Linked DNA regions of Homo sapiens: regions 1, 2 and 4 are each reported to be linked to region 3. Evidence: microRNA targets listed by miRTarBase, many of them from high-throughput screens and not tested one by one. Region 3 holds a microRNA gene; each other region holds the end of a gene's coding sequence.

The links. Region 3 holds the annotated microRNA hsa-miR-130a-3p (CAGUGCAAUGUUAAAAGGGCAU, at 4,025-4,046, shown strand). A microRNA usually pairs through its seed, bases 2 to 8, with sites in the 3' UTR of a target mRNA and lowers its output. Matches are read on the target gene's strand: a 7mer-m8 pairs with bases 2 to 8, a 7mer-A1 pairs with bases 2 to 7 and ends in A, and an 8mer does both.
Region 1: miRTarBase lists PRUNE2 as a target of hsa-miR-130a-3p. Seed matches in the 3' UTR shown: 8mer at 6,506-6,513 and 7mer-m8 at 4,013-4,019.
Region 2: the mRNA of JARID2 is a reported target of hsa-miR-130a-3p. Seed matches in the 3' UTR shown: 8mer at 6,461-6,468 and 7mer-m8 at 5,119-5,125.
Region 4: the mRNA of PNRC1 is a reported target of hsa-miR-130a-3p. Seed matches in the 3' UTR shown: 7mer-A1 at 5,665-5,671.

What each region holds. Positions count from the first base shown.
Region 1 is chr9:76,607,960-76,615,077 of GRCh38, forward strand. PRUNE2 (prune homolog 2 with BCH domain) reads right to left here. Exons shown (of 19, transcript NM_015225.3): 19 at 3,417-6,641. The coding sequence ends at 6,611. It overlaps LOC105376095 (a long non-coding RNA gene), which reads left to right. Exons shown (of 12, transcript XR_007061586.1): 4 at 1,074-1,194; 5 at 1,290-1,383. Among named protein-coding and RNA genes, the nearest start is that of GCNT1, 150 kb to the left of the region's middle.
Region 2 is chr6:15,519,710-15,526,809 of GRCh38, reverse strand. JARID2 (jumonji and AT-rich interaction domain containing 2) reads right to left here. Exons shown (of 18, transcript NM_004973.4): 18 at 4,768-6,741. The coding sequence ends at 6,559. It overlaps DTNBP1 (dystrobrevin binding protein 1), which reads left to right. Exons shown (of 10, transcript NM_032122.5): 9 at 2,141-2,284; 10 at 3,591-4,003. The coding sequence ends at 3,835. It overlaps LOC105374947 (a long non-coding RNA gene), which reads right to left and starts at 476. Exons shown (of 4, transcript XR_007059475.1): 1 at 1-476. RefSeq lists a silencer at 3,590-3,776.
Region 3 is chr11:57,637,228-57,644,345 of GRCh38, forward strand. MIR130A (microRNA 130a) reads left to right here and starts at 3,971; the gene lies at 3,971-4,059. MIR130AHG (MIR130A host gene) reads left to right here and starts at 1,149. Exons shown (of 2, transcript NR_186232.1): 1 at 1,149-1,445. RefSeq lists silencers at 1,073-1,262, 1,283-1,342 and enhancers at 2,189-2,768, 6,043-6,542.
Region 4 is chr6:89,083,161-89,090,278 of GRCh38, reverse strand. PNRC1 (proline rich nuclear receptor coactivator 1) reads right to left here. Exons shown (of 2, transcript NM_006813.3): 2 at 5,119-6,526. The coding sequence ends at 6,083. Among named protein-coding and RNA genes, the nearest start is that of PNRC1, 6.0 kb to the right of the region's middle. RefSeq lists enhancers at 4,718-5,244, 5,245-5,772.

The DNA of each region.
Region 1 (7,118 bases), not on the chromosome of region 3:
CGGTCCAGTGACATGCAGCCCTGGGTCTTCTGCTGGGATTAATGGGAAGGAGGTGACCCTTTCCAGTAGGCTGAATCCCAGTTTGTGTGATTTCAAAGACAATGAGGTAGTACAGAAATTGTCTCATCAGCTCGGGGAAGTGAGAATTTACTAACCCCCTCCTCAGGGATTGGAGGGGGCACAGAGAAATGATGGTGGGAGTTTGTAGTCTGAGATTGAAACCAGGCTTTGAATAATCTGAGTTGTGCTAGTTGAAGTCATGGAGAAATAGCAGAAAAGCCTCCGTCTGAACATTGAGAAACACCTTGAGAAAACAGAGGAGCTCAAAGAGGAACTTGCAGAAGGCACCAGGGGTATGGTGGGCACAGTTTCCAGGCAGCCTTCAATCATCCCTATCTCCTGATAGTTACACCCTGTGTCCTACTCTCCTTTTGAGTGTGGCTAGATCTAGTGACTGACTTCTTTTAATTTTTTTTTTTTTTTTTGAATTTTTACTTTTTGGAGATAGGGTCTTGCTCTGTCACCCAGGCTGGAGTGCAGTGGGGCAATCATGGCTCACTGCAGCCTTGACCTCCCAGGCTCAAGAGATTCTCCTACCTCAGCCTCCTGAGTAGCTGGGACCACAGGCAAGTGCCATCTCACCTGGCTAATTTTTATATTTTTTGTGGAGACAGGGTCTTGCCATGTTTCCCAGGCTGGTTTCAAGCTCCTGAGCTCAAGCTATCCACTTGCCTCAGCCTCCCAAATTGCTGAGATTAGAAGAATGAGCCACTGTGCCTGTGACTTACTTCTAACCCACAGAATAGAGCAACAGTGAGAGGATGTCAATTCTGTGATAGATTGCAAAATATTGTAAGTTCCTAGCAGTCTTTCTCATTGGTTTCAATAAAAAAAAGCTGCTGTGCTGGAGGGACCCATGAGGCAAAGAACTGAGAGCAGCCTTTAGCTAACAGCCGGCAAGGAATGAGGTGCTTGGTCCAGCAATCACAGAGAAACTGAATCCTGCTGATGATCATGAGGGTGAGCTTGGAAGCAGATTCTGTCCCAGATGAACTTTGATTGTGTCTTGTTAGAAACCCTGGACCAACTCCTTGATTGCACCTGTGAGAGGCCCTGAAGCGGAGGGCCCAGCTAAGGTGTGTCTGGATTTCTGACCCACAGAAACTGAGATCATAAATGTGTGGTTTTAAGCCCGTAAGTTTTGGAATACAGTAGATCTTCATTATTCACAGATTTTGCACTTGCAAATTTGCTTACTCGCTAAAATTTATTTGTATCCCTAAAATCAGTACTCCAGCACTTTCACAGTCATTTACGGCATCTGCAGAGCAGTGAAAAATTTGAATTGCCTGAGATACATGCTCCCTGCTGAAGTCGCACAAGGTAAGGCTCTGTCTTCTTGTTTCAGCTCTCAGCAACAAGTATCCTCTTCACAGTCCATGTAGTTTCCTGTATTTGTGTTTTTGTTTTTTGCATTGTTGCGCTTTTTGTTGATTTTACTGTTTAAAATGGCCCCCAAGCTAGTGGGGGCTATTTGGTATTCCTAATGCAAGGAGGCTGTGATGTGCCTTATGGAGAAAATACCTGTTGCAGAAGCTTCATTCAGGCGTGAGTTATGTTCAGGCTGTTGGCTGTGAATTCAGTGTTATCAAGTGAACAATATACATTAAATACAATATCTTTAAACTGAAAAACACATAGAACAAACTTATGTATTGACCGGTTGCCCGAGGAGCAATGGATCAGTGTTCACTAACTCAGTGTTCTTGTTGACTTTATAGGACATAACTACTGTGAAAAATGAGAGTCAACTGTAATTTGTTAATACAGCAATAGATATTGAATACTGTGGGAAAGCAGGGTAATTCAGCTCACTGGTCTAAGGAGGAAGTTTCACAAGGAAAGCGTGATCCAGTGTTAAGGGCTATAGGTCTCTCACTAGAGGTAAGGCTAGAGAGATCATGGGTAGCAGTTATTGGTGTCTAATGTCTAAGTATCATTGGAATGGTTATATCTTGAGAAGAAATAATTTTGTCTAGTTAAAGAGGGTTATTTTGAATGGATGTGAATGAAACTATCTAGGAAAATCAGGCTCGTGAGGCAATCTGCTTGCTCCGTAAAGCCCACAGCTGTGTGAGGATTGATGTGTCAAAAGGCACCAGCTCTGAATTAAAAGTTCCATGACTGCACAGGATGATGCAACCCAGGGCGGGCTTCTGGCACGCTGCAGCACATGGACACAGCCAGCACAGGGACACTGCACACACAAGAGAAGCTGTAGAAGGGAATGGCTCCTCAGGGATCCACAGTGCCCCAACACAGCTTTTCTGTAATCTATGACTGAAAGTCTTGGCTTCCACGACTGAAGTTGTCTTCATTTTATTTATTTTTAACTTCAGCTTATAAAAGGCCCCTTATGATTTTGATTTTTAATTAGGCTCCCAACTTTATCACTGATCTCCATGCCCTACCCTTACCCAAATGAGTGTGTTAAGTCCTTAAATACACATGGATTTTGGATAATACGTAGTTTTGTGTGTGTATGTTTAACAGTTATGTAAGTGGCACTGTGCTATAAACATCGAGTTTGTTCTTTTTCCGCTCTACCCTATGATTTAAGTGTTGCTTTATGAACATATAGTATGTTGCTTCTCACAGCTGTGGTATACTAAAAGGTGTATTCAGCACGATTTACCCAGCCCTTTCCCTAGTGCTGGACACCTAGCCCACCTCCAGTTTCCACCACCATAGTTAGGTACGAGAGCAGAATGAATGTAGCAGTACGTCTTGTAGTTGAATGTCCTTCCTTTGCCTGCAATTACTTGTCAGCCTTTTCTTCTGTTTCTTCCCTTTCTTGGGTAGAGGACAATATCTACCAGAACTCATTTTTAGATCATGAGAACATGCAACGTCTCACTTCTTGTAGAGCAATTTCTCCTTTGGCTAGTCCAACAACTTTCTCAGAGGTACACATGTGTTTATTAAGTTAAAAAAATAGCACAGTGGTAATTCTCAACTCTGGTTTTGCCTGAAGGTTGTGAAAATGGGGAAAAAACCCCAACTAAAAATAAAATGATATTTAAACATTTTAATTTAAAAATAAATATATGCCATAAAAAGGCAAGGGGAAGAGAGAGGAAAAGACAAAAATCAAGTAACCATGAAACATGGAGATGTTTCCAAAGTAAGAAATCGCTTATCCACAGAGTAAACAACAGTTTGAAAGCTCGGTGTATTGAACTCTGAGATAGGAAAGGCAAAAATGAAGAGAGAATAAAGTTTGGGTGTACAGAAAAACCAAAATGTATACAGTCCTCCAGTACCAAGTGCCAAGCTAGATTGATGTTGAGATAAAACTGCTGCAAAGTGAAGCCAGAGAAAAATTCTTGCTGACTCAAAGAAAGAAAACCATCACATGCAGAATCAATTTTTATTTCTGAATTATACAGTGAGGCTATATAGATATATTGTGTCATTAAAGACTTTTATATTATTAATCTACATTATGGAGAATTTATTTACCAAAACGAAGTCTAACAGACACTTTATTCTGAGCAATCCAATGCATGATAGAAAAACCTTTAGATATATAAAAGATTAATTTGTGCACATCTAAATGTTTCTAAGGGAACAAACTACTGAGGCATTGTGATAAGACGAGAGTTGCAAACATAGTACCATAACTGAATATTTAAAATTACATCTTAACAAAGGCTAGGAGTAGTGACTTCCTCACACACCTCAGAGAATGTCTTAGAGAGTAACCCCATAGAACATTGTATGGCTTCAACAGAAACTTCAGGATTTTCTTCCACACTGAGCTACTGCCCTCAAACAAACTTTCTCACTCCTTGACACTATCTTCTGTGCAAATTTCTGTTCTTTCTCTTAATCAAGGAGCTTTGAGAAACAATGCTTTTGCCCCAATGACCCCTTGGTTCCCTTAACTACAGATCTATAGGAGAAATGCAAAGCAGTTCCCAGAAGTCAGAACCAAAGCAAGAATGTTCAGAGTGCAAGAGCTAGAGAGCTAAATCATGTGAATGTTTACCTCTGTCTACCTATCTGCTTAGGGATTATTTTTCTAGGATTCATCTAGGATTCTATTTACTTGGGGTGAATGTACATGGTAGCTTTTCCCTAGCACATGCAATTAAATTAATTTGTCTTTTAAGATAATAAAATAGCAGATACCTAAATATCAGAGTGGTTATGCAGCCTACAGAACAGCTGAAACAAAATCATTGGGACAAATGCCCATAATTTTCATGTAGGAAGATGAGGCTTCAAACAGCATACCACCTGAGTAGTTTTCCATAGATGAGCTGGACAAGTTAAAAATATATATATAAATGGTGAGATTGTTGCTGTGTCTGTTTGGCTATAACAAGAGCCCTCTATGAACAGCTCTATGCCCTCAGGTTTGCACCACTACACTGAACACTGGATTTTTCATTACTTCCTGTGACAGGGTGACCATGGAATTCATTTTACAAAATGGGATGCTACTGAGTGAAAGTAGCAAATAGGTGAACAAACAGGAATATTGGGTAACTGTATTTACGTCAACACTGTGTTCTGGGAGAGGTGTAATTTGGGCTTTCAAAAGTGGAGGTGGGCTGTGGGAGGGGGTGGGCTGTAGGGTTTTTCTGTCCAACAAGCCAGATGTTATGAAGGAGGAGATCCAACAGAACATACAATTCAACAAGATACTCGCTTGAAAGGATCAAGAGGAGAAAAGAGAAAACGATGGAGGCTTATGGAGGAAAGAGGGCTGAACTGCGTGTGTGTGGGCACGTGCGGAAGGACGGGAGGAGACAGAGGTGAAGCAATGAGGTCAGAGAAACTCAATCACCTGTGCAAAGATGTCGACTTTAAAGTAGTTACAAGCTCCTTCTACCCAGGACTCCAAATATCCTGGACAGCTCTCCCCAATGAATTTTCCACCATGAGACTAGGGTGGAACCGCTCTCACCCCTTCATTTTTATTTCTGCCAGCTTCTTTGTAATAGGAGACACTGGAGACTAAGAATGGTTCCCAGAGTGAGGCACGGACTTCAGCCAACACCTGTATATACTAAAGAAGTGCTTCTAAGAAGGCTTCATTTTGGCAATTGCAACCTAAGCAGTGATTTTGTGGCTAGGACTCCTCATGTTTTTCAGCAAGCCATTTCTTTTATTTCACTGTCTGTGGATGTCAAAACATTGATTTTTGACAAAAATAAATTAGTTTGCAGCCTCATTTGTCCGTTCTGTTAGAGAAACTATCTAAATACAAATTGGGGTGGAGTAGGAAAGGATGCGTTTGCTAGAGCAGGGGTCAGCAAACTTTTTCTGTAAACATAGTCAATGTTTTAGGCATTGTGGGACATACGGTCTGCTGAACTGCTCAGCTCTGCGGCTGTAGTGTGAAAGTAGCTGTAGACAGTACAAAAACAAGTTTGTGTGGCTGTGTTTCAGTACCACTTTATTTATCGGCACTAACATTTGAATAATTTTCATGTGTCATGAAATATTCAAAAAAAATTTTTCCAACCCAAAATGTAAAAACCATTCTTAGCTTGCAGTGGTGAGCGAGACTTAGCTGTGGTTTGCCACCCCACCTCACTAGAGGCCTACAGACTTGAAATCTTGTTGGCATTTTAAAGGGCATATGAAGACTATAAAGGAAATATTTTGTACATGAAAGTAATACTCATATTTAATTTTAAGCCTATGATCAGATTACGGTGTTTTAAAGCAGATCACTTTTTATAATGCATGCGAGAGAGGAATTCATGAATAACTGAATGCTACCAAATGATTTTTGAGTAGGCCACCTTGCACTTGAGTTCTTGGCACTTAAAAGGTAACCTCTGGAGCTGAGTTTATGGCCTGAAACTCAGAGAGCTACCAAACATGCAACACGGATTCTTAAATTTCACAATGTGGTGGTCACCAACATTCATCAGGAAAATGATGTTAAAAGACCAATTTACATAAAATATAATGCCCAATTTGACAACTAAAATAAAGTTGACGTGGATTAGAAAGCCCGGCTTCCCTTTGAGAAGTTAAAGGAGATTCTGGTAAACAAGAACAAAACGGGCACTTAGCTGATGATGGTTTTACACCTTGTGTGGTTTGTGGCTGTCCTAGTCAGGCTTAGGATTTTAAAGGTGGAGTCAAACAGGGGAAACTTTCCTGGGGAGAGTTGAGACCTGTGTACTTTAAACCTAATGCAATCACCAAAAGGAAATCCAGCTAATCTATGGAAACAAATCCACTCATACTTAACAGTGGATTAAAGGTATCTTACTGGTAAACACCAGTCTAAGGGACAAAGTATCACTACACCGTGTTAATGAAGTATTGAAATGGAAGGTCCTACTTTCTTGCTAAGGCTCAACTAAAATCTTTGAGGCACATAATTGGCAAAATAGGAAAGTACACACAATTTCATAAAATATCTTAAGAGTAAACAAACTTTCTATTTTTCCCCTTAGAAATTTAGAATGGCACCAGGTAGTGCAAAGTGGAAAAAGGTAACATCAGCCCTGTCTCTTTCAGGTAGATATGTTTCAACAGAACCATGAACCAGAAAAGCATCCTCTTCTTCCAGCATGGCCAACTAAGGCTTTTCTTTCAGCTTCAAGTCAATACTGCAAAGAAAAGAAAAAGAGAGAGAAACATGAGAAACCAAATGAGAGACATTTAGTAATGATTTGGGTAGCACTGTGTTTGCTTTTTTCCTCAAAGGACATACTGAAAATATTTAAATCATGCAAGTTTCTTATAATAGAAAAATCTGGTAAAACCCAATCCTCCTCTTGTCAGGCTTTTCTCCAACATATGAAATCTGTTTAGTTCTACAAAATCGTTTCTGGAAGCATTTTACACCTTTTCAAAATGATCCAGGGAGGTAAAAAACTCATGTAAAGGCTCATTCCCAAAGTCAATTAAGATAAGGAGCATTAGTGTATTCCAGAAATCATGCCATTTTATTTAATAAGTGACCTTTCCTTGTGAAGCAAACAAATGTTCTGCCTCAAGTAAGTAATGTCTGACAAGCACTAAATAGTAAGAAATGGTAAACAACAAAACAACACCAAACATTTTCTAGAAGCCAAAGGAATTGA
Region 2 (7,100 bases), not on the chromosome of region 3:
AAGAAGATGGCACAGACAAACTTTCAAAACTGAAGTCAGAAGCCACGATCTAAAAGACAGGCCTTGGCGAAAGGCTTCCGTAGGTCAGAAAGGAAACCCTCAGAAGCGTGCCCCCAAAAAGAACAAGCCTGACCAGCGTGCCTTCAAATTCCCCTGACCACTCAGCCTTGAAGATCCAGCCCAGCGAACTGCTGTCCCTGTGCGGCTGGGCTCAACCCCCGGCCAAGTCCGAGGCAGAGCAGGCTGGCTCAGTTGGCGAGGGTGATGCCGCCAAGCATGGGATCATCTAAACCATAATACTTTTCCCCAACTAAAAATAGGAATTACTCTTACCTCTCATTCAAGTGCTGAACTTTAGTGATTTTCTGAGCCTGAGGATAATGAGACTCACTTTCCTCCCAGATGAAGCCGCAATCTCACGTCGCTGTGGCTCTAAGCACCCTCCTCTCCACCCCCGTGTCTTTGTTCAGGAGGGTAATTTGGCCTTGGTGACTCCTCGTTATGACTGTTCCATTCCAGGTTTTACATTAACTCACACACTCACACGTCTCTTTGCTTAACATGCTTTCTTGCACTCAGCCCTTCCTTCACTATGCCTCTAGCGAGAGCAGGCTCATAATGACGTGTTTCTTCTTGGTCTCTGCTTTTCTCCTGGATCTTAAACGATACCTAATGTTACACCATTTTAGAGATGACATTTCTCTCTCCTCTTTGAACTTACTCCGCAGTCTTCTGGCTTTTATTATTGTTGTTCATGAGTTGCCTGTCATCCTAATTATTTCCTTCTCTTTCTTAGCCTGCCCTCTCTCTCTGGCTGCCTTTTAGAGAGCCTTTGTCTTTTGATGTTCTTCAACTTCAAAGCAATTGGTGTAGGTGAAGATTGCTTTGATCTTGCTTGGAATGTTTTGCTTTTTAAATCTGGGTCCTGAGGTCTTTCATCGATTTGGGAAACTCATCAGCTTCTTTGAATAGAGTTATCTCCCCTTCTTGGCTTCGGGGAAATGTGACCAGATGCTACGCTTCTGCATCTTTCGTACCTTTTATGCTCTCTTGTATTTCCTTTCTTTGTTCTTCTATGCTGCATTATGGCAGATTTACTCATCCTGCCTTCTAGTTTATTAATTTTCTATTGGGCTGTGACTGTGCCCCGAGTTTGAGATTTCAGTCTCTTCTACCTAGTCATTATTTGGCTTTCAAATGTCTGTCCTTATTTTTGACACCTTGTTTTTGACTTCACCTTTCCTGTGACTGTGGTGTATGAACAGCCATCTCATATTCTTCAGCGAGGATGATGTTTGTTTCTGCTGCCCTTCACTCGGAGTGGCTCATTTCATGTGTGTTACAAATGCCAGATTGGGTTGGGATTGACTTTGTTTAAACCAAGGTTAAGGGAGAGTCCTTCCAGAAATAATTTGCATTTGCTTCTGCCAGGCATTCCCCATGGCTAGGATAACTTACGTGGCTTGTGGTTTTCTGGACCATAGAGGTCGTTTGCCTATGAGTAAAGACCTGTGGGGCATCCCGTGCTCAGTGCCCGGGCAGAGGCCAACTAGGCATGTGCTGTTTCATGGGGTCGCCGTCTGCTGGTGGGCTGGGTTTTGTTTTCTCCTAGTCTGTGCTTCCACTGCAGGGAGCTCTTACAGCTTACAGATGTAGGTCAAACCCCTTCTGCCGTTAGGCCCGAGAAATGTTCCAAGGCCAGTGGAAACTCCACTTGCAATTAGAGGAGTGCGCCTGCCGGGAAGGTTCAGGGCACCTGTAGGCAGGAAGCAGAGCTGTGGCTGGCAGGGAGGAAGGTCGCTAACTGTTGCTGCAGGAATGTTGGCCTCTTTGAGACAGGCTGAGCGTCCTACTCAAAACAGCCGGGACTCACTTAATGCAGAGATTAGTCTTCAGCGTCCCAAAGGGCTGGGGATGAACAGATTAAGGAAGTGTAAAAGGTAATAATAGTTGCCAAGGGTGATTTAGGATGCATTTAAAGTGCCAGACTGGCATATGTCATCTACTAATACGTTGCTTCAAATTCCATTTTGAAGGAAGCTTAGGAAATGCAATGTAGTTAGCCTAATGCCAATGGAAGTTCACCTTTTAAAGTAATATTAAAGACAGCGTGTCCTTTCTCGTGTTGATCTATCCGCAGAGCCCATAGGCAGCATGTCATCCATGGAAGTGAACGTGGACATGCTGGAGCAGATGGACCTGATGGACATATCGGACCAGGAGGCCCTGGACGTCTTCCTGAACTCTGGAGGAGAAGAGAACACTGTGCTGTCCCCCGCCTTAGGTAGGGTTGACAAACTTGCATTAGCTGAACCAGGGCAGTATCGATGCCACTCCCCTCCAAAGGTGAGACGTGAGAACCATCTGCCAGTCACTTACGCATAAACCCCCAAGCTCACAGCCAGCTCCTGGCTCCCTAACCCCACGGTTCCACACGGCTGTGTGGCAGCTGCAACAGTGGTGTGGTTCCGTCATGAATTCTTCTCAAAGATTTGACATGCTCCACTCCGGTAACTTTGGTGAGTTGAGAGCTTTCTTGTTTGTTTTCCCTCCTTTACCACCCAGAAATCCATTTGAGTCTGCTCCTTGTGGTTAAGGACTGGCGTTTGCAGGGAGGTGCGGACTCTCCTGCGGGGCTCACGGGAAACTCTTCCCTCTTCGTGCGACAGGCATTTAGGGGCGTGCCTGCCATGGGCAAAGCCATGGTGTGTGTTCAGCTCTTGGCCTGTGTTGTAAACTTAGTTGCACTTCAGTTCCTTTCATCCCTTCACAAAATTTTGTTTCACATTCATGCAGCAAATATGGGCTGAGGTGCCAGACCTGTACCTGGGCTTGGTGCGTTTCAAATTTCAGACCAGTTCTTTGGGCTGGGTCAAGGCAAAGCTCAGTCGTCCCAGCAGCACCTCAGCCATCTGTAGAAGGTTCTACCATTACCACGGTTTCAGCTTCCTCTAAACTTCTCACCCGCTTCTCCTGGCAATCTGTCAGAACGGTGTCATCCTGGGGAAGAGAAGGAGCTTGGGTGCATTTGCCCTCATCCTGAGAAGGCCAGAATACTGGAGACCAGCGTGAACCCTCACCCAGAGTCAGGGGAAGATTTAGAAACAGTGACACCTGCATATAGAATTTTGATTCCTTGAAGAGCCTATTTAGTTCCATAAAATTGGAGAACTGCTGAAGGTCAGTAATTCCGACTTTCTCAGCAGTGGTGTCTCTGAATTACTGCAAAGGGTAAAAAAAAAAAAAAGAAATCTAGATTATCAAGGTTACAAGGACTGCTCCTCAAAGATAGGCAGCACTTGCCTTTGGGCCTCTATTACACGCGTATTACAGCCTTAGGAGCACTTGATCTGTGTCACATGTGGCTGACTCCTTAGGGGACAGAAGGGTCACCGCAGGGCCTGAGGCTGCCTCTGGCATCGCTCAGCTCAGTGTCTTCCAGGGCAGTTCCCAAGTTCTGCAGGCCCCAGGTGCCTGGAACAAAAACCACACCCCCCTTTCATGACGGGCACATTCCACAGCTGTTGGCGGCAATTCTGATTCACAATATTTTTATGACAGGGCTTTTTCTTCCCTACGTTATTTTGCAGGGCCTGAATCCAGTACCTGTCAGAATGAGATTACCCTCCAGGTTCCAAATCCCTCAGAATTAAGAGCCAAGCCACCTTCTTCTTCCTCCACCTGCACCGACTCGGCCACCCGGGACATCAGTGAGGGTGGGGAGTCCCCCGTTGTTCAGTCCGATGAGGAGGAAGTTCAGGTGGACACTGCCCTGGCCACATCACACACTGACAGAGAGGCCACTCCGGATGGTGGTGAGGACAGCGACTCTTAAATTGGGACATGGGCGTTGTCTGGCCACACTGGAATCCAGTTTTGGCTGTATGCGGAATTCCACCTGGAAAGCCAGGTTGTTTTATAGAGGTTCTTGATTTTTACATAATTGCCAATAATGTGTGAGAAACTTAAAGAACAGCTAACAATAAAGTGTGAGGACGGTAAACTGAGAGCGCACAGAGCTAGTTTGTACACAAAGGCTTCTAAATACACATGTCCTTAAGGCCACTGTAACTCAGGGTTCCTTAGAGTGAAGGGACGTGCAGGTCATTGAGGGCCACCCCGGGAGGTTGCATGTGGGCAGGGCCTGGGCCAGGTGGTGGAGGCTCCACAGGGCTGAGTTCTGCATGAGGCAGGGAATGACCTACCGTTTCACAAGTGGAAAATGCCACTTCCTGTAGAAGAGCTGACTGTAGCCAAACCACTCTGGCAAAGCTTGGGGTTTTCCGTTGATCATTACAGAAGTAAGTAAGTATCATTAGTCCAGTAGCCAGCCAGTCCAACCCCTACTTTTTCACACTCCTGGGCCCAAAAGAACAGAAACAAGCCCAAAGCAATCCTCCATTCTTTATGAAAAGAAACTGGTCCCCTGGAGATGTGTTCCTGCCATCACTCCTCCAGCCCAATGAGAGAGAGGGGACAGACTCCCCGCCGGGATGAGGGGGTCTGTCTGTCTGCAGCCATACCACCCTGAATGCACCCAGTGTCGTCTCATCATGAAAGCAAGCTCAGCAGGGGGGCGCAGCTCGATGGGAAATGAGGGGGACGGCCGCAGGCCACATGGAAACCATTAGGTTAGGCTGAAGGGGACCCAGTGGCAGGTGGGAGCAGGACTGCAGTGTGGGGGGTGGCTCTGCTCCCTGGCTGGGGGGAATCCTCTGCCCCCTGCCCGTGGACGAGAAAAGAAAGAGCTCATTCCATTCAGTCATCTTCCACAAGACAGACAAATGTCCAAAAAACTTTGTTTTTATTATTAAACCTTGTAGTACAAACCTGAAAAGTAAACAAAAAACTCGCAATAAACCACATGAAGTCTCCCTCCCAAGGGAGGGGTGCAGAGCAGCGCTAATAAATTAAATGTCAAACTGTAAGCCATAGGCAGAAGTTTACTGTCAAAAAGAGGGAAAGTACACAGCAAGGCCATAGAAACCGGACAACCACATTGGAAAACACTTGACTGTTTCTGTAATTGTTAAATATTCCAAAACAGTTCAGTCTTCTGCAACAACAACCAACAAAGTGGATCATAGGACGTTCCTGGCAGTCACCACTGGCAAGCTCAGTGCAATATGGGTAGCTACGGGATTGATGAATCCAATTATGAAACAAAGAACAGCTTGTGAAAACAGTTTCCCTTTTTTATTCCACACATACTGTACACACAACCGGAGAAGGGCAACAGCTACTCCATTATTATTTTTTTGTTGTTGTTCAGTGATGTAAGCAGCACTTATAAATGTTACAAGAAAAACCCTGTAAGCATCCAATCCAACCGATGAAGAAACTGAAATGTAAGGCTTTTCTTCATCTTGTCTTCTCACCCCCCTCCCCACCCCCCACCGAGAAAAAGGCTCAAGTATTTAAAACAATTTACAGGCATATGTACAAAAGGGATGGGATTTTTTTTTCTTTTTTCCTTTTTGTTACAACATGAAGAGAAAAAATAGACAAGATGAACGCAAATGCATTTTCACATTCAAAAATAACTGCAGGCCTCCTAGTGGCTCTCTACATGATCATAAATGAAACAAGTTTTAAAAGAAAGATTAATGCTGACTTGTGAAGGTGTCAAACAAGAAGCGGTGAGATGGAGATGGAATGTTAGAAAGATTGCACGTCGATGACAAAGAAGCACTTACGGCTTCCATCACTTTTTTTTCCTTTTTTTTTTTTTTTTTTTTAAATCTTAAGGATGCTATTGAAGGGTTTTTTGATAAAGTAGCCAACAGCACCAAAAAATAACAGAATGGATTTCCTAATGAAATCAGGCACAGGTCTCCCTCATGTGACCCCTCCAAGGCAGGCAGTCTTTTCCGTCTTCCTCGCTCGCTTTTCTTCTTTCCTGGAACAGATGCATAGTGATGTGCTGGTGGAGAGCCCACTCGCTCCCGTCTCCTCGTTCCACCTATGGTTAGGAAACAACGTCCGCCTTCAGCTGCCACAACCGCCCAGAGAAACAAAACGGGGGTGCCCCGGCTTCCCAGATCACAAGCTCATCTGGCACACGGCAGAAGACGACAGCCAAAGCAAAGCCATTTCAAGTTTCGTGTGTGTGTGTGTGTGCGCGTGTGTCTCCTATCCCTTCTAAAAAATCTGCTCACATGACTGATGGTTTTTAAATTTGTTCTCCAAACTTCACCCTCTTCAAAAATGGGTTAAAAAGCCTTTTTCCCCCCAACAGTTACAAAAAAAAAAAAATCAAAACCAAAAAAAAAGGCTTTTGTCAGCCATGGGGCAATACAAATTAATACAGCCCCTCCGGGGTTTTTAAAACAGTGACTATACGGCAGTTTCCAAAATCTGACTGCAGTATCTAGGTTTTCTAAGTACAAAAAAAAGTTCAACAGTTTAATGCTAAAACAAAATTAGTTCTCTAAAACCAGAAGAAAATCTTCTTTAGAGCTAGTGCAAAGACAGCTTGAATCCTACAGCAAGTACTCCAAACTAGAATATAATAATTACAAAAAAATATATATAAATCGACCACGGGCGTTGGCATCTTCATGATGAGCTCGAAGCACTTTTGGATGAACTGGAGGCTGACAGACGGGAGGGGGGCACGTCCACTGTCGCTCTCTTGCGGGGACCTCTTTTTGGTGTGGGTTTACTGAGACAGTTCTCAATGCTGCCGTTTTTACCAGACACTTTGCCGCAGATCTGATTGACCAGACTGATAATCTGTTCCTGTTTGGGGGTGAAAGGAAGACACAGTTAACATACCGTATTAACAAGAGCTCTGTCCCTGAGAGCCATGCAGGGGCAAGTTTAGGGCAGAGGGCAGCGGTCCCCTTCACCACACCAACCAACAGGTTTTAAAATAACCCCGAGAGGCTCAGATGCAGTGAGTCTCCCTTTCCCAGCTCCTCCTGATGCCACATAGCAGGCATGGCCGTTTCATCCTCATCAACACCCTGGTCCACCATGCTTTGCCTGCTCATAAGGGCAGGGCTGGCAGGGGAGCCCAGAGCACTGCCTCTACCACGGAGCACTCAGCAAAGAGACCCAGGGGCTTTGTTACATCCTGGATGGTGACACAAATACCC
Region 3 (7,118 bases):
GGTTTTCACCATGTTGGCCAGGCTGGTCTTTAACTCCTGAACTCAGGTGATCCACCCGCCTCGGCCTCCCAGAATGCTAGGATTACAGGCATGAGCCACCGAGCCCGATCATAGCTCACTGCAACCTGGAACTCCTAGGCTTAAGCGATCCTCCCATCTCAGCCTCCCTAGTAGCTGGGACCATAGGCCACACCACGACGCCCAGCTAATTTTTTTATTTTTCGTAGAGATAGAGTCTCAGTGTGTTGCCCAGGGTGGTCTGGAACTCCTGGGCTCAAGCAATCCTCCCACCTCAGCCTCTCAAAGTGCTTGGATTATAGGCGTTAGCCACCGCGCCCAGCCTCGCCCTGCATCTTAATGGCAGATCTAGGCCTAAAACCCCGGACCTTACTCCAAGGCCTGACATATCGCCCTCGTCCTTGCTGCCGCCTTCCTCTCTGGGCTCCCCCACCTCAGAGCCCCTTGTGGGCGCACAGCACGTTGGCCCAGGCGGGGCAGGGCTGGTCTGAGGGGATGTTTTTGACGGAGCGGAGCTCCAGATGCTGCACATTCCTGATCGGGTCAGGCCTGCCCTGCGGCACTCGGGGAATTAGCTTCGGTGAAGAGCCCCAGATCTTCTTTCTAGAGCTGCCCTCTTCCTGGCCAGCCCAAGAAGCGCGGGCGTTCAGGAACGCTCTCCCACCGCCTTGGGTGAGGCTGAAAGGCTGAGTGGATCCCCTGTTGCAGAAGTACTTCTGGTCAAGGAGGGGTTGGAGACGGGCAGGAAATTGCACCCCTTGTATCTTCCAAGGTCTCCAAATCCAGCACGAGGGGCATCTGGGAACAGGGTTTCTGCCAGCCCCACCTTGGGGCCGCATTTGGCGGGAACTGGATCTGCCTTCACCTGCAGCCCTGTGCGGGGCGTGACGGAAAGAGCGGGGAGAGGGGCGTCCTGGTGCGGGGGTTGTTGAGGTGAGAAGCCAGGGGAGGGGGCTCCGGGAGCGCCCTGACCTCGCGGACTGTTGGGAGGCGGAGGGGATGGGGGTTGGGGGAGAAGAGGGGAGCCTGGCAGCCAATGGGAGGGAGGATCTCGTTTCAAAAGGGTTAACCCACAGCCAATGGGAGCCTGGGGGAGCGGATCCTGCTCACTCCATTCAAGAATCCCAAGTATTCAAGATGGACGGCAGGGAGTGTGGAAGGAGAAAGGGGGCGAGGGGGGAAGAGCGAGATCGGCAGAGGAGAGGGTCTCCGCGGCCCACCGGCCTCGCAACCTCGGTCCCGGCCGGCGGGTGGCGGGGCGGCCGCTGGGGATCCAAGCCCGGCCCGGGAGAGGGGCTGGCGGGGTGCGAGAGGGCGTGAGCGAGGGGGAGCGAGGCCAGGGAGGGGAGCCAAGAGGGAGGGAAGGGCAGAGAAAGAGCCCGGGAAGAAGGAGGTGGCAGGCAGAGGATCCTAACGAAGAGCAATGTGTAGGTATCGAGAGCTTCCCGAAGGGTAACGACACCGATTTTCGGTTTTATTCTCTCTTGGGGAAGGGAGGGGGACGGTCTGGGCTCTTTCTCTCGTCTTCCTTTTTCCCTCCTCATTCTCCACTCGTGGGCATCTTTTCTATTTTTTCCTTTGGAAACACTGTAACTGGGAAGCACCAGGCGTGTCTTTCTGAGGTGGCCTCACTGTCATTTTCCAGTGGGGGGCGTGGTGGGGTAGGGATGGGGGGCTCCGCTGGGCACGGCCGAGCTGGGCCATCTGTCTCCACCTGGGTTGTGTGCGAGGGCGTGGAGTGTTCCGAGGGGGACCGGGGGCCGAAGGGCTGGAGCAGGGCAGGGAGTTCTGCACCTCCAGAAGTTGTAGGGTGAGCCAGGGGCGGTGTGGGGGTGTGAGGCTGGTTTTCGAGCTGATAGTTGTGGGGTGTTGAGGGGTGCGGGGATGTGTGTGTGTGGGGGGCGTGCGCTCACACTCCAGTTCTTGTTGTTTGGGTGTGTAATGAGGGCTGAGTTGTGCAGCAAGTATGGCTGAGAGTTTGTGTGTGTGTGTGTGTGTGTGTGTGGTGTGTACGTGCGCCTGTGTGGTCCAGCCTCGAGGTGTGTGTGTTCGGGGGGAGCACAGTTGGGTGTTGAAGGAGAGCGCCCCTCACCCCCCACTTCCCAGCTGCCTCTCTCATCCCATTCACAGAACATGGCTTTCAGGACCCTCCTGGTCTCCTCCTCCCGTCGCCATGGCTGCGAGGAGGGGGTGGGAGGAGACAGTTGGGGCCAGCCCCCTGCCCCTGCTGCTCCAGCTAACCCCCCACCTGCCCTTTCTCTCCCTTTCACAGGCTGGGCCCCATCCCCTGCTGCTCTGGGGGCAGGGGCCGGAAGATGGTGGCCAATGAGGAGGGGGAGAGGAGAGAACTTGAGCCGGGGCCTCCCCTCCCCCATTTCCTCCTCGGTCTCTACACTCGCTTCTGGAAGGAGCTGGGGGCTGGCTCCTGGGCCCAAGGTGGGGGAGGGGTCCTGCTGGCTGGTGAGTCGCTGGGCCTGCTCCTCAGGAATGAGTTGGGTGTGTGAGAGCTGAGGGGCTCTTGGCCCTTTCTCCCTGCACTCCCTAAGGAGAGACCTGGAAACTTCTTGGGGAAGAATCTTCCCCTGGCCTCCCTGAAGCTTGCTGTGCAGCCTTATCTTTGCCCCTCTGCCCCCTGTTGGTGTGATCCAGTTCCCAGCTGGGCCTGGTTTGCCCAACCCCAGAGCAGAGAGGTCACTGACCCTCGAGGGGTCTTGGTTTCCGCCCATTAAAACTGTAGGGCAGGGCCCCATGTTTGCAGATTACGGGAACAAACTCTGCCGGGGAGAGCGGGAGGGAACGTCTCCTGCTTCCTGAGGGGGTGGGACGAGGCTAGAGGGAAGCCCAGAGGAAGAGCTCCCAACTGGAATTCTGTCCTCTATTCCTTACGGTGGCTGTGGATTAGGGAAGAAGGCATCTCCCCTTCGTTGATCGGGGCACTGGAGGAATCACCCTCCAGCCTCTGTTTCTCTGGGCTGCCCAAAGTTCACTGGGTCAGAACTGGAGCTGGGCTCCGGGGCTGTGGCCCTAGCTGGAATGTGCCACAATAGAGCCTGCCTGGGTCTGAGCCTCCAGATATCCAGGTGTCCTTCCAGGGCAGCTTTCTGGCTTTGGGTGTTAATCTTCCGGGGACTGTTTGTCCTGTATTTAAGCCCCCTTAGGGTTGGATAGGATGGGGAAGTGCTAGGATGAGCTTGAAGACTCCCCAACCAAGGGTCCCTGGATAAGACAGGAAATAACTCAGATGTGAATCCCACTGCCAGTGAAAGCCTATCCCTAACTCTCAGTAACTGTGAGCGAATCACCCTCACCATTTTAATGCTGAATCTGCAAAGTGCTTTCAGGACCTCCAAAAGGAGATGCAGGGGTGGGGCTTCACCAGCAGCTTTCACCTCCCCGCCTGGAAGCTTCTCTCTACTGCGTGGGGAGCTGTGACTACAGGCTCCCACCTCTCTGGTCCTGGAAGGTCATCTGAGAGTGTTGCCTTGAGGCCTAGAGCTCTGCTTTATCTAAATTTAAAAGGAGATGGAAACTTAGAGAAGAGTAGAGGGTTCTGTAGTCTTGGGCAGCAAGCTCCTCTCTAGAAGGTAAGCTAGCGGAAATGCAAATCCAGATGAACACAGCCTCATACGAGTGACCTCCAGACTTTGGGGATTGCTAATAGCCGTTTTCTTTGAGGACTGAGCATCAAGCCCGAAGTATCCCTGCAGCTGCTTTAGTGGGTCCTGTCCTCCCATGCCAAAACCTCCAAGAAAAAGGTGGTCTCTGTGCTGGGGGTCAGGGGGTTGGTGAAGAAGGCGGCAAAAGGAAGAGTGGTGAAAAAATAGAATGAACACTAAGAATGGAATAAAAGGGAAAAAAGCTGTATTGAAGCAAAGAAGGGGCAGAGGGAGCCCGTGAGCTGAGTGGGCCAGGGACTGGGAGAAGGAGTGAGGAGGCAGGGCCGGCATGCCTCTGCTGCTGGCCAGAGCTCTTTTCACATTGTGCTACTGTCTGCACCTGTCACTAGCAGTGCAATGTTAAAAGGGCATTGGCCGTGTAGTGCTACCCAGCGCTGGCTGCCTCCTCAGCATTGCAATTCCTCTCCCATCTGGGCACCAGTCAGCTACCCTGGTGGGAATCTGGGTAGCCTCACTTGTTAGTTATACTAATAGCTCTCATTTATGGAACTACTTCTGTATGCAGTGCTTGTGATAGACACTGCCTCCGTTACTGTGAAACCTAATAACTTCTGGGAGGTAACAGCCCCATTTTATGGATGAAAAACTGAGGGTCAGAAAGGTTTAAACAGTTTGGCTAAGATTGTGTAGCTCTTAGGTTGCAAAGCCTAGATACAACCCTGTGTTAAGTCTTGACAGCTCACTCATCTTTTTGTAGACCCATCTGGAGAGATCTGAATAGGTTCTTCAAACTGGGAGATTTCCTGAGCTGAGGGGTGGAAGGTTTTGATGCCATCTGCTGGTTGTATGAGGATATCTTCCAAAGCCTCAAACCTTTAAGGACCAGAAGTGGTGGCAACTCCTTAGGCTAAGAAGGATAAGCATTCCCAGACTCAGCCCGGAATGGAGAGTGAGTGGAAAAAGATTAGGAGAATCACTATTAGGTACAGAGTAGGCCTCCTTGAGAAAAAAAGGAATGCACCAGAAAGGAAAGGGGGTTAACTCGAGAGGATTGCTCCCCAAAGAAAAGGACCTGTGTGCTGCTGGCATCCCATACCTACAGCTCCTTCCCTGGCTCATGAGGCATGGAAAGACCTCACTCCTTCCCTGAATCCACTTACCTTTCTCAGCACCACTCCCTCTTGGTCACGGGGTGTTTGATGGTAATGCTGCTTGAGGGCACACCTGTCTGGGCATCCAAGATTTGGACAGCGTTGCCCATGACTTAATCTTAAAGATTAATAGGATCCCTTGAATCAACCCACAGAATGATTCTCCCAGGACCAATTACAAGGAAATTGAGGCCGGGTGCGGTGGCTCACGCCTGTAATCCCAACACTTTGGGAGGCCGAGGCGGGCGGATCACCTGAGGTCAGGGGTTCAAGACCAGCCTGGCCAACATGGTGAAACCTCGTCTCTACTAAAAATACAAAAATTAGCCAGGCGTGGTAATGCACGCCTGTAGTCTCAGCTACTTGGGTGGCTGAGGCAGGAGACTCTTGAATGAATCTTGGAGGCAGAAGTTGAAGTGAGCCGAGATTGCGCCACTGCACTCCAGCCTGGGCAACAGAGCGAGACTCCATCTCAAAAAAAAAAAAAAAGAAAGAAAAATTTGAGAGCAATGACTCAGCCATTTACTTCTCTGTCTCCCACAGTGCCTAGTAGGCTTAATTAAAACTTGTTAAAATAAATTGAATGAGAGGAATATTTGGGGAGCTTCTTTAAGAAGGCAGCTAGTATTCCTGGTCTTTTGGCTAAGATCAAGTGAAGAAGGCAGCTAGTTTGTGCCTGGTTTTCAACAGCAGAGTTTGGGACTTGAGAAATCTTCCCTAAACTTTGGTGCAAGAAATGGGTCCAAGAGGAATAGGGTTTTGAGGTCCTCTGCTGGACCCTGAGAGGGATCTTGGCATCATGAGGCATGTAGAAACTGAAAGATGGGTCAGACTCCCCTGAGGCCTTAGTTGAGGGATGTTGGACATCTCTCCATGGCTTGCCTTTTTCCCTTGCCCTTTTACTTCTGTGCCTTCCAGTTCTAGTCCTCCTTTCTCCTGCCCAGACAGCCTCTCCATTCTGATCACAACAACAGTATTTGAGATAGTACAGTTAGCTTTATTTCCCTTTTTTTTTTTTTTTTAAGACAGAATCTCACTGTCGCCCAGGCTGGAGTGCAGTGGCGCGATCTCGGCCCACTGCAACCTCTGCCTACCAGGTTCAAGTGATTCTCCTGCCTCAACCTCCTGAGTAGCTGGGATTACAGGCGTGCACCACCATGCCTGGCTAATTTTTGTTGTCCAAGCTGGTCTGAAACTCTTGGCCTCAAGTGATCGCCCACCTCAGCCTCCCAAAGTGCTGGGATTACGGGTGTGAGCCACCGCACCCTACCATATGTTCCTTACTTTCTCCAGTCTATTAAAACTTCTATTTGAGCCTCTTGTCTGGGCACAAATAGCCATTTGATACTGCCACTCCACTCTAAAAAACAATAATTTTCCCATATTTCCCTAATACCATTGGGATTAAATCTAGATTCCCTAAATAGTTTATGGCTCCTGCTTCTCTTTCCTTTCATGTCCTCTCACCCACTTTTTAAGGAGACAAAGTTTTGCTCCAGCCCAGGCTGGAGTGCAGTGGCGTGATCATGGCTCACTGCAACCTCAGCCTCCTGGGCTCAAGTGATCCTCCTGCTCAGCCTCCTGAGTAGTCGAGACTACAGGTGCAGGTATGGCTTTTTTTTTTTTGAGACAAGATCTTGCTATATTGCCCAGGCTAACCTCAAAGTTTGGCCTCAAGCAAGCCTCCAGCCTTGGCTTCCTAAAGTGCTGGAATTAAGGCGTGAGCCACTGCTTTCAGCCCACAAGCAACTTTTATTTCCTTCAATTAACTAAACTTAAGTTACTTGACACATACTCTGTCTGAAATACTTCCATCACTTTTGCCTTTGCCTACCTAACTTCTTATCTTTCAAATGCCATCGTAGTCATCGCTTTTGTGAAGCCTTCCTTGACTCCTTACATCTAAGCTGAGTTCCTTTCCTATGAGCTCCCAAGCTTCCTCCACGTCCCTGCTTAGATCCCTTATTATCATCTTCTACTGGGATTTCCTGGTTATTGCATCTCCTACTGGACAGAAAGCTCCAGGAAGTCAGGTCACAGCTGCCTTATCTTCACCATGTGCTTAACATCTAGTGCTTAACACAATGCCTGGCAAGTAATAGATGCTTTATAAATATTTGGAATATTAATGAATGAATCTGGAAAGAATATTATAGCTTACCAAAAAATGATCTTTATGATGTATATGGTCTCCCCTGTAACTGTTGGGCACCCAACAACAGTAGGGATTTCATACCACTGCCAATAAAATGTCCCTTGGGTCATATGGTGGCATTGATGTTGCGATTTTGAGCTTTTTTTTTTTTTTTTTTTTTTTTTTTTTGAGACGGAG
Region 4 (7,118 bases), not on the chromosome of region 3:
TTTCCCTAACTCTATTTTCTTTAACACTTTATTATAAAAATCTTCAGTATAAAAAAATGTTAAATGTAGCTGAATTTTAAAGTGGAACATCCATATACCCACTACCTAGATTCTACAGTTAGCAGTTAATTACACCTGCTTTGCCACATATATTTCCATCTATCCCCCAAGTATTTTGAATTTAACAAAGTATTTCAAAAAAAACCTGGAATATTCATACATGAGGTATTCTAATTAGCTAAAGTACAGCCAGAAAACCTTGGTTGAATACCTTTCATAAACAATTCTGTTTTCTTATTTTTGAAATTCAGGATCTGGTCTCAGGCATCACATGATTACAGGAACTTAAGAAATAGACCTGGATGGTTAAGGAGACTGGACTGAATGAACAGTGACTCTAAGAGCCTTGAAAGTCTGGTAGAAAAGGGACATTTCCAGTCTTTGATAGTAATCCTTTCTAAAATTTGAGAGCATTAAATGCCTAGTCATTTGAAGAGTAAGGTTAATTTTGCTCAACTTTGGAAGGGATTGTTGAAAGCCCTTGTTTTATAGTTAGAAAATCCCCTCAAATTGTAACTTATCCAAAGGTTTGATGGGACCAAAAAGCCCTCTGATTCCATGTTGTCAAGTAAAGTGAAATAATAAAGATCTTGTATTTAAAAATCTTACTGTTAGTAGGCAATTGTGAGTTCAATTTAAATCAAACATTTGCAATTGGAAATAACCAAAAATCATCAAAATGGCTACAAAAAGGAAGAAATCACTTAAAAACCCTGAAAACAAAAAGGGAAAACGTTTTCGGCTGGGCTTGGTGGCTCACTCCTGTAATACCAACACTTTGCGAGGCCGAGGCCAGTGGATCACTTGAGCTCAGGAGTTTGAGACCAGCCTGGACAACACAGTGAAACCACATGTCCACGTCCCTGTAGTCCCAACTACTCAGGAGGCTGAGGTGGGAACATCACTTGAAACCAGGAGGCAGAGGTTGCAATGAACTGTGATCGCACCACTCATTGCACTCCAACCTGCATGACAGAGCAAAACCCTGTCTCAAATAGAAAAGGCCCAGTGGGGTGGCTTATGCCTGTAATCCCAGCACCTTGGGAGGCTGAGACAGGCAGATCACTTGAGGCCAGGAGTTCGAGACCAGCCTGGCCAACATGGCGAAACCCTGTGTTTACTAAAACTATCAAAGTTAGCCAAACAGGGCGGCGTGCACCTGTAGTCCCAGCTACTTGGGAAGCTGAGGCAGAATCACTTGAACCCAGGAGGTGGAGGTTGCAGTGAGCCAAGATTGCACCACTGCACTCCAGCTTGGATGACAGAGTGAGACTCTGTCTCCAAAAAAAGAAAACATTTCTACTTGCCATCCCTTGCCCAAGATCCTAAAATGCCAAGATGCCAAGAACACATTTGTAATTTGCATTTGACAATGTCAGATTAACAAACTCTAATCTTGGAATAAGAGAACTATCTGTAATAATTTAGTAGGAGCAGCCATGTATATATAACCAGCTTTGGAGGAGTGTGATTATCATCTAGTGTCTTTACAACCAGACATAACACATATTTTTCTGAATGCTAATTGTATTAGACTAAGAAAAATTACTTAACTTTCCTGAATCTTTTCTTCCACATTCATAAAAATATTGTGTGAATAACTAGAGAAATGAGGTATTTTTATCATTGTTTAATGTCATTTTGTCTTTTAAAGTATTGTTAAATGTTCAAGATTATCTGACCTCTTCTAATTAAATGCAGCTTGAATAGAACATGTAGCCTCCTTTGATAAATGTGTATCTGACTTTCATAAATTTTGTAGGTTGCTTCTATCAATTGTCCCACTTTGTCCCTTTTTACCATTACTAAATTCAGAAACTATGATTAATGCCACATAATCTATGATAAGCTATTCCTTTAATGAGGGAATTTAAAATTTGTGTAGCCAGTTCTACACTAAGCCCACATTATTATAAACCCTGCTCTAGAAAATGAATTCTAAAATCTCAACAGTGGACCCTCACTAAATGCAACACCTTTTATACATCTTAAATTGTTATTGAATTTGGTATTTTTATAATTCAAGTTAACAAAACAAGTAGTTCCTGAATTACATTATTTGTGTTTACACAATTCTGTCTCCTACACCATCTCATCTCACAACACAGGCATACTTTCTTTCCCCATTTGAAAACTTATGCAACAGTTTCCGGGAGATTTCTAGATTCAGAAGGAAAGAAGTACAACAATGAGAAAACAACTTGGAGGAGTTAGCTCAGGGATCAGACTCAGCAAGGCAATTCTGTGATTTTAAAATGTATTTAGTTTAGCAATGTCCTTCAAAAATTTAAATATAGGAGTATGATGGGACTATCAGCCTTTCATACCCAAGGATACATATACTTGATTCCTTCAACCTGAAGCAGATATTGATTGCATATAAATTGCCTTCCACCCACGAAAACAAAGGATAGTTTATCCAGCAATAAGATGAGGAGGGTTATTAGGAGATGAGAGAGCTGCAAGAAGAGATAAAGAGTTACAAAAGATCAGTTTCACCCAATTTCAAATTGTAGAAAAGGGAAGGAAACTTTATTCCTCCTTTGCACCAACTGGGCCCCTGCTATCAGAATTCAGAATTTAAATTAGAACTGTCTGCTAACACAGACTTTTACAGGTACGGAAAAAAAAACAACCTCTATATAAGTTTCATGAGGAAATTATAATTCAACTACTATCACAGTGAAGTTGACAGTCCATAGGAGGCAGAGAGGATGAGGTCAAGACTACTGGTAAAGCATTATTATTATTATTATTTTTAGACAGGGAGTCTCACTCCGTTGCCCAGGCTGGAGTGCAGTGGCATTATCTCGGCTCACTGCAACCTCTGCCTCCCGGGCTCAAGCGGTCCTCCTGCCTCGGCCTCCCAAGTAGCTCGGAACACAGGCATGTGCCACCACACCCGGCTAATTTTTGCATTTTTAGTAAAGACGGGGTTCCCTATGTCACCCAGGCTGGTCTCGAACTCCTGGACTCAAGTGATCTGCCCCCCTAGGCCTCCCAAAGTGCTGGGATTACAGGCATGAGCCACCGTGCCTGGCCTAAAAGCATTAAATCTTATGAGACAAAAAGAAAAGGATAGAGATAAAATATTCCACTCTCATTTCCCTGTTGTAATTACTGCTTTGTGCACTATTTACCAAAGCCATACCTCTGGATCTGACCTATTTTCTATCTACTTGCTGTGCCTTTCCACATGGATGTCCTAGAGGCACCCCAAAGTTCAACATGCCAAATCAAAATGACCTTCCTTTATAATTCTGATCCCCCTGCAATCCCCTAATTGGTAGATTTATCCTTCAAGTTGCTCAATTTCAAGTCTTTTCCTTACCCTCTATTCAGATGCTCAATCCTCAATTCTAGCTCTAAAACATTCCCCCAAATAAGCCCATACCTCTGATAATGCCCTCTAGGCCCTTTTCTCTTTTGAGCTACTGAAATATCCTCACCTAAGTAATCTGTTTCAAGCTTTCCCTTATCAAGCTGTCCTCCATATTTCTACGTTTTCTTTTTGAAGCAAGAATTCCATTCCCTTACTCATAAACCTTTGAGAACTGCCATGCTTACAAAATAAAGTTGAAGCTCTTCCGCGTGACACTGAAGGCCCTTCGTGTTCTTACCCCAATATACCTTTTAAAAACTTCCCTTCCTTTCTTGCATTTCTCTTAAGCTACTGGACATTGTACATTTTTTTTTTTTTTTTTTTTTTTTTTTTTTTTTGACATGCAGTATCACTCATCGCTCAGGCTGGAGTGCAGTGGTACAATCTTGGCTCAATGCAACCTCCGCTTCCTGGGTTCAAGCGATTCACCTGCCTCAGCCTCCCAAGTAGCTGGAATTACAGGCACCCACCATCACACCCAGCTAATTTTTTGTATTTTTAGTAGAGACAGGGTTTCGCCATGTTGGGCAGGCTGGTTTCGAACTCCTGACCTCAGGTGATCCACCAGCCTCAGCCTCCCAAAGTGCTGGGATTCAGCGTTGTGCATCTTTTTACACCACCATCTGCTCAAACTTTTACCTCACAATTTTTTTCCTTTTTTGTGTGTCAAATACTTATCTTTTAAGGCTCAACTCAATTTTTTTTTTCATTTTTTTGAGATGGAGTCCTGCTCTGTCACCCAGGCTGGAATGCAGTGGCGCGATCTCGACTTACTGTAACCTCCGCCTCCCGAGTTCAAGCAATTTTCTGCCTCAGCCTCCTGAGTAGCTGGGATTACAGGTGCCTGCCACCAAGCCCGACTAATTTTTTTCTATTTTTAGTAGAGACAAGGTTTTACCATCTTGGCCAGGATAGTCTTGAACTCCTGACCTCGTGATCCATCCGCCTCAGCCTCCGTAGGTGCTGGGATTACAGGCGTGAGCCACCATGCCCAGCTCAACTCACTGTTACTTTCTAAGGTGTCAGATTCCCAAAGAGAAAATTTTCTCACCAAAATTAGTCCCTTCACCCTAAGAGACTTTACCTTTTTCTCTCTTCAGGCATTTGTTGTTGTAGAGTGGGGAATATAGCTTGTATTTTAGTTATATTTGTCTTTTCTCCCCATCCCACCTAAACTTTCAGCTCTGCCATTTATCCTTCTATTTCCTGAACATACGTTACACATAAGCCCTCACACATTAAACTGCAGACATACTGCTCAAAATGACAAGAGCTGAGAAATGTTGGACAAGGAAAGAAGGGTGGTTGAGGCGGTAGGACTTATATTACATTGTGTAGGAATTTTTATAACCATGTGCAAAAATGTGTTGTTAAAACCTGTTAATGTGTCCCTTTCTAGAATCACAAACTGATTTGGGAGAGATGTCAGAACTCACTGTAGTCAGTCATTAGTATTAATATTTACAACACATTACTAACAAAAGCTAAAATTGGTGACTAAAAATTGGGGGCATCTTCAAACTAAACTTCTAAATGAGCTTCCCTTCCATTTGTGAGGAAGGTGTATCTGCATTTGTAAGGAAGGAATGGTGACTCACACAAAACATCAAACAGAAGTTCCTTTGTATATTCGATCTTCTTTACTTGACCTGATTGCTTAACATTCCCACTCAAAATCTGTCTCCCTTACTTTCTCTTGGCCTTTTTTTTGAGACAGCGTCTGTTACCCAGGCTGGAGTGCAGTGGCCTGATCCTAGCTCAATTGCAATCTCCACTTCTCAGGCTCAAGAGATGCTCCCGTCTCAGCCTCTAGAGTAGTCAAGTACTATGCTCAAAAACCTCAATGCTGCTCCTGGTAAGAAAATGTAGATTATGGCCAGGCATGGCGGCTCACACTCAGCCAGTAAAGTAGAAGTCAAAAAAATCCAACCACACAAAATCATCTCCTAGTCACACATTCAAACATGAGAAACAGTCACACACAAAGAGTCAAGACTATTTTAAAAGGGGGGGCCAAATTATTATTATTTTAAAATTTGATTACAACCAATTTTGTTGGCATTAAAATTAGAGGCATTAAGCTGGAATGGATATATACCAAAACCAGAAATTGAGTTTAGCAAAAATGGGAATAGGAGTTGTTCAGTAATTTCAGATTACAAATCAATTTAGAGAAACAAACCCCATGCTTACATTGATTGTGCCACAGATTTAAACTTCAGTAGTGCATTAGTAAACTGTTCACATTTAGATCTTCACCTTGAGATTTGACAGCTGTTTCTTGAAAAAAATCTCAGTACCTTGTGCAAATAAAATCGGTCTTCCATGTGCCTTAGCACACACTTAAAATTTATCCATTGTATATATACAAAACACCTGCAATGTGGGCAGGGCAAAATACATACTTTCATAACAAAACTATAATATACCTCTCAAGTATGAACAATATACACATAATACATGGTATACAGTATTTACAAAATATAAAATATAATACAAGCTGTTTGTATGTAATTTTTTAAACTCATCTTTTGCAATTGTATGTTGCAACAAGGCAAATTTCCATTTCTGTACCAATTTTCTCAAGAGTCCAGGGATATGGGAAAAATTATGTTTTACACACATACTGAAATCTGAAATCTAAGTTTGAACTTTGAGGAGCGTTTTTAAGTGTACTGCCATCAGCTCCCTGTTTTGGTTGGAATTTTCAACAGTGCTTCCCATCCAGTGACTAGGAGGCTTTGGAAGAACACTAGGAGAAGGTGGATCACTAAACTTTGCCCCAGCATAATTTTCCTTTTGGCTCACTTCAGTTAGAAATGCTGATTTCTTCAAATGCGAATTTTTAATGTTCTCGGTATTTTTAAAAGGCTTTTTTTCCTGCTTCTGAATTCTGTCAGATGAAACAGAATCCTGCCAAAAGTTGTTTTCATTTCTTTTTGCAGAGGTGATCTTGGTTAGTGGCAAGTTATATTTGCTTTTCTGTCTGTTTATCTTTGGTTGCTCATACAAGTGTATACCATGAACAAGCTGGCCATGGGGAAGGGCAATTTTCTCCGATTTTCCCATCTTTGATTTTAAAACCTACAAAGACAAGAACACAAAAGTAAATATAGTTTCTAGATAAAAATCAGTTATGAACCTCATATCACATATCTAGTTTTGTTGTGTTTAAGTTTGCCCACAGCCATAGAAAAGAACAAAATTATGTTCTTTGTGACAACACGTATGTAGCTGGGGGCCATTACCCTAGACGAATTAATGCAGAAACAGAAAACCAAATATCGCAAGTTCTCACTTACAAGTGAATTTGGGAGCTAAACACTGGGTACAACATGGATATAGTGGGGAACAACAACAGACACTAGGCACTACTAGAAGGGGGGTTGAGAGAGAGATGGGGACCTACTGGGTACTATGCTCACTACCTGGAATGGGATCATTCATACTCCAAACCTCAGCATCACGAAATATACCCATGTAGCAAACCTGCACAAGTACCTCCTTGATCTAAAATAAAAGCTGAAAATTACAAAAACTTTAATTGGGCATGGTGGCTCACGCCTGTAATCCCAGCACTTTGGGAGGTCAAGGCAAGCAGATCGCTCAAGCTCAAGGAGTTCGAGACCAGCCTGGGCAACATAGCGAAACCCCATGTCTACTACAAATATAAAAA